Linked DNA regions of Homo sapiens: region 1 is linked to region 2. The links come from fine-mapping of genetic effects on gene expression. A gene starts in region 2. The other region holds a variant in brackets. All regions are shown on one strand. Distances are between the middles of the regions.

Region 1 (2,924 bases), 79 kb after region 2:
TCAAAGGAACCTGGCTTTAGTTACTGCTTTGAACTAGACTAGAAATTGTTTCCACTAACTGTGCTGGAGAGCGCCCCTCATGCCTATGCTCCACCATGAACATATTGAATAGCCTTGCTAGACAGAAACACATAATGGAAAGCTGCTTTATTTATCTGAAGCTCTGCAAAAGAAAGAAATTTCAGAGCTTAAAGAGGAATCTCATGTACTTGCTTCTTATGAGAAATATTACCATAAAAATACCACTTCTGTCATCCAAGGGGGAGAAAGCTGTTTTCAGATGTAGGAGGGACGTCCAGTGGAACCTAATGGTTTGTCTAATTCTGGGCTTAAAAAGGACTTCATATTTGAAAAGTGATGTTTTCAGCAATCTTGGCCTATCCCAAAAGAACCAGAGTCTTCATCTTAATTAGATAAATAGAAAGCATCATTGCAATACGATGTTCAAAGCCCTTGGCTTGGAATCAGCAGATTTGGAGGTTCTAGTCAGAACTCTCCCATTGATTTGGCTTCTGATTGTATGGAAGTCTTAATTTTTACACTTTAATAATAATAATGAGTCATTCATTGATGGCTTACTATGTGCCAGACATTTTGCTAAATGCTTTATATGCATTATTTCATTTATTCCTCTTGTCAATCCTAAGACATGGGTATTATTATTATCCTCATTTTACAGGGAGGATACTGATGCCTAGAAAGGTTAAATGCTTCCCAAGAGCACAATGCTAAGAAGCTGGATCTGATCCCAGGTTGATGTGGCTATAGAACTTGTTTGTATGCACCAGCCTTAAATTCGCCAGCTAAATGAAAATTTAAGGAATATCTTATAGCAGTCATCAGTGTGATGAACTGTGGGCTTCTACCTTTTATGCCAGGATCACTTGTTCTCATATTAAGATATATTTACCAGGAACCTGATTTAAAAAATGCAAGGATTTAGGAGCTTATGAAAAAAAAAAGGAATAAAAGATAAGCAGAAAGATTAGGCCTGTTTGTTAAATAAATTTTAAAAAGGTTATATATGGTAGATTTTAAAGAAGTGATTGTTACTGAGGATACCCATGAAAAAGATTTGTTTTTTTATCTAATTATTTATCCTGATTAAAGAATGTGGTGGTCAAGAAATATCAGTAGGTAAGTTGGAAACAAAAAGCAAAGGGGAAAATACCATTTTGTGAGAATGGCCTGCTGGTGGCAGCAACAGATCACAACAATTGTCTCCCATCACATCAGGAATTCCAGGCATGTCTTTAAGCACACAGCTTCCTGTTTTATGAGATTTCAAATCACAGGCTGCTGTTATGATGGCTATAAAAACTGGCAAATCATTCTAGCTATCAATATGACTGACAGGATTATTTTCCACAGCATTTTATATTGTCAGAGCTTTACACTTATTGTCTCCCCATGGGTCGTGTTGGTAGGGGGGTGGGTATTAAATTATTAATTAAATGAAAAATGAGCAAACTTTAAAGTTTGATGGAAATAGTCTTGAAATCAGTGACACCTTAGTTATTAACTTCTGATTTTGTTGTAAGATGAATATAGGTTTAATAAACAGACTTTTGCACAGAATTATTTGTTTTTTCACTGTGATTTTTTTTGTGAGACCTCCAGTAACAATTTTTCAGTTCTCCATAAACATTATTAAAGGATTTTTTTGACTTAAATAGCTTTGAAAACACAAAACATTAATGTTTATTCCATAAGTAGCAGACAATGAAAACATATGTTTTAGTTACTGTATTTATGCCTGAGGAAATACCCATAAAGAGAA[A/G]TTCTCAACTGCTGCAGTGCCTGAGCCTTTGATGAAGGCCAGCCTCTGGTCACCAGGTGGAGCTGTTGACTCCTAGCAGTGCCTTCGGGGCCCAGGTGTAGAAGGGTCATGTGGTCGGACAGTGATGCTTTGACCTGGATGTTGCTTTCTGTCTGGGTAGCTTAGTACTGGAGGCTTCCATACATCTCAGCCTGGTTTCTGCTCCTAGGGTGGGAAGAGTTTGTGCTGCTGAGGAAGATGAATTAGAAGATCCACTCTTTTCGTTAGTACTGTGAGCAGACTACATCTGGGTTCCTGTAATGGAAGGAACAAATACTGAGGCTTCCAGAATGCTAAGTACCTTTTAGGTAAAAGGGGATCTGCTTGAAAGTTGGACCTGGGTGGAGCCCTTTATTGTGAGAAATATGATCGACCTTCCTGGACATGTTGAGACTTCAGTCATTCCTATATCTTGAGATGTTGACGGCACCAAGTGGGTGCTCGATATAGGTGAATTAAATGGATAAACGAGTGAATTAAACAAATAACAAAATGCAAGGTAACTCCTTTCATTTCCTCAGTAAGGGGCTCTATGTCTCATCTCATTCATTTATTAATTCATTTGCCATACAGTGTTTGAGAACTTACGATGTTCTAGGTTTTTTAAAAAACGCCGAAATTCAGAGATGCTTATTTTCATTTCTGCAGGTTCTGCCATCTATAATTTTGGTGTGAGGAATGAGTTAGGAATCTAAATTTTAGAAAACGGTTGCCCAATTGTAATAACACTTAAATAATCCATTCTTTCCCTATTGATTTTTCTGTTCTTGAACAGTATTTTAATTAATATGGATTTCAAGATTTATTATTATTTAGGAGATCAAATTCCTCTGTAGTATCCTTCTTTTTCAGTATTTTGTTGGTTACTCTATATCAGTTATTTTTCTGGATTAATCTTAGAATTATTTTGTCAATTAATTTTGAGAAAAAAATGAGATAATTTAGAGTATTCATCCAGGAATATGGAATGTCTCCCTAGATATTTATGTCTTCTTTTATGTTTCTAGGAAATGTTGTGTTGTTTTCATGTAGAAGAAAACATTCCTAAACATCACTGGCTTCCTTAATTAGTTTACATCTAGGTGCTCAGTCATCACCTCCTCAG
Region 2 (2,924 bases):
ATTTCATTGGGTCTTGCACAGTGCCTGGGAGCATTTATATACGTGGTCAGTAATTAAAAACAATTTATTTTTCCTACCTCTTAATAACTATCACAGTTGTTCAGTAATAGTTTTATTGGATAGAACTATGTTCAAGTATGTTCTAATTTATTCCCCTATCTGGAAAAATATGTATATTGTGAGAAAATAGGTTTGTCTTGCTTACATTATTATGTATCATATATTTTCATACTGGGGTTAACAAATATATTCTAAGCACCGAAACTGGTGGCCTTGAAAATGGCTAGACTAGCTGTTTCCTTTCATAGTCCAAACTGTGTGAATATAGCTAAATAAAAAATCTGGCTCTATTATAATAGCAAATGTGATTTTGTATGTGGAGTCTTAAGGCGTGATTATACTGTTTCTCACCATGAACAGTGATTTTTTACACATGATAAGGCAGGCTAGCAAATTCACATACATTACGGCTAGAATAATCCATTGCTTTAAAAACATGATTTTTACCTGCTTTTTAGATTGAGTGTTCTATAAAAATTTTTTCTTAAGTGAAAAAAATATGCAGAGGCTAATGTAGACTGTAAAATGAAGGAGAAGCTTAGCTTTACTGTGGAGTCTGGGTCTGGGTGTAACCTAACTAGCTAGAGGATATGCAATTCCTGATTGACAGCAGATCCAGCATTATGCAGATTTTGTAAGGGAGAACACTCAGCTCAGAAACAGTGATGAGAGGCTCTGTTAGGAATTACTACATTCACTACTCATATCTTTTAGTTTTCTGTCTACTGGATTTGTAAATAAATAGCACAAAACAGTTCCTCTTTTGTTTTTATTAAAGTGATACTGCAATGCAGTTCAGTCTGTCAGCTAGGCATACATGTGTGAAATTTGATATTCTCACTAAATTAGCTAATTTTTAGCTGTGTTCCATGCTTATCTCTAGACCTTTGTGTATTAAATCCTGTCTCGAGCTGTTCCCTTTATACACAAGTGTGTTTTGCTTGTGCCTTCCTGTCTTCTTCAGTGAGAAGCTTTATGTAGGTCAGGCTTGGCTTAAGCAGATTTCCTGAACCTGCGTCAGCTTAAGCTGGAGGAATTTTAATAAACCCTCCCCTGTAGGCGTGGGCCTAAATGAGGCTAGCCTAGTTAAGCCTGATCTTTTTCTGTTTGTGAAAAGAGCTGAGCAGAGCTGAAGGCTGCATGGTGGTTTCAGAAACTGCCTACTTAATTTGAAAAGAACAATGGTAGGAAAGGCTAGATCTTCCAATTTTACCTTATCCGAAAAGCTTGATTTGCTAAAGCTTGTGAAGCCATATGTGAAAATTCTCGAAGAACACACTAATAAACATTCAGTAATAGTAGAAAAGAATAGATGTTGGGATATCATAGCAGTTAACTATAATGCAATTGGAGTAGACCGCCCTCCTCGAACAGCACAGGGCCTACGCACCCTTTATAAAAGGCTCAAAGAATATGCCAAACAGGAGCTATTGCAGCAAAAAGAGACCCAATCAGATTTTAAAAGCAATATTTCTGAGCCAACCAAGAAAGTTATGGAGATGATTCCCCAGATTTCCAGTTTTTGCCTGGTAAGAGACAGGAACCACATACAAAGGTAAGCTTTATTTTGTTTTGTTATGGAAAATTATGGCGCCTCCTATCTATTGGGCTTTGGCTTAGTCGTGATAGAGATATGCATAGTAAGCATCCCCACAACGGGAGCAATGAATAGTGTCTTTGTTTTGCATTTTTTAAAAAGAGAAAAGTGAGGCTATGAGGAATTTTTCTGTTGCATTTAAGCTACTTTTTACTGTCTTCCCCTCCCCCTTCCCTCCTGTAGTTTCTAAAAGTAAAGGTTAGGGAGGAATAAGTGGGTTGAAATTTGTGACATCACTTCATAAACTTCTTAAGCTTTAAAATTAAATTATTTAGTTTGCTTCTGAGAGATACTTTTTTTCTCATTTAAGATTACATTTCACTGGAATTTTCAATTTTATATAAAATTTATATAAAGTTAGCAGTTTCTAGAGAAATGGAACCTTGCTTTTTTATGAATTGTCATTGTCTACACTTATTGAATATATGTTAACTAACAAATATAAACAAAATCAATAAGTAAACTTGTTAATGGCATGATTGTGTATATGAAGACAGTTTAAATTATTTTTCTAACACGTTTAAAATAAAGATGAACACAACTAAAGGGAGTTAATGCCTAATTAGGGATTCAGTTTACTTAATAAAATTAAAAGTTTTTTGTTGTTGTTGTTTTTATTCCTTAATAGTCTAGTTTCACTTTGATCTTGGGTCGTATAGGAAAGAGTAAGCTTTCTCTTACTGCTTTGCAAGGATATCAAATTATGAATTTTAAAATACCCCTAAGAGCAACTGGGTTTTTTTAGAGTTAGAAGCAATTTTTTGGTTAAACTTGTCTTCTATGTAACTATTTGCCTTGGAATTTTCAAAAGTATTATCTTGCCACTAATTCAGATTGTAACCTCTGGCAAAATATAAAAATGGCAGCTACATTCTTATTCTGAACCATTTAGGGTAATTTAAACAAATTGTAAACTCCTTGTTAGTTTGAGGAGCCTTTCAAACAAAGCTTTACACAATGTGCTTTTCTATTGGTGGAAGAGGCATTATATAAGCAAATTATTGATTACTATGAAATCCCTTTGAAATTAGGAGAGAAGCAGAAAAAAACCACTTTGTAGCCAAGTGCATATGTTATTTTGGTAATTTACTAGGAAAGTATTTTTGAGCCTAGCTTCTTACCAGATACTGCTTATTTCTACTTGATAGCACAGTAAAAAAAATATCACCAGTGGGAATCCAGGACATGAATACACAGTGGATTAATTCTTGGGGCCACTGGTTAAAATGTTCACTGTGATGACAAATGATGAAATCCCAATAGCTAG

Which allele goes with the higher level. Positions count from the first base shown, and alleles are read on the strand shown. Sizes are in standard deviations (SD) of each study's normalised expression.
For the expression in subcutaneous fat of the gene that starts at base 1,166 in region 2, allele A in region 1 goes with a lower level than allele G (moderate effect, 0.52 SD a copy in GTEx).

What was found. PIP is the estimated chance that this variant, and not a neighbour inherited with it, causes the effect.
Region 1: its variant is fine-mapped to the expression of FSBP in subcutaneous fat (GTEx, PIP 0.98).

Annotation. Positions count from the first base shown.
Region 1 is chr8:94,356,184-94,359,107 of GRCh38, reverse strand. No RefSeq gene overlaps it. Among named protein-coding and RNA genes, the nearest start is that of FSBP, 79 kb to the left of the region's middle. The variant A/G (reference allele first, on the strand shown) is at 1,781.
Region 2 is chr8:94,435,186-94,438,109 of GRCh38, reverse strand. It overlaps FSBP (fibrinogen silencer binding protein), which reads left to right and starts at 1,166. Exons shown (of 2, transcript NM_001256141.2): 1 at 1,166-1,615. The coding sequence starts at 1,242. All of the region lies in intron 3 of RAD54B (RAD54 homolog B), which reads left to right. RefSeq lists an enhancer at 2,810-2,924.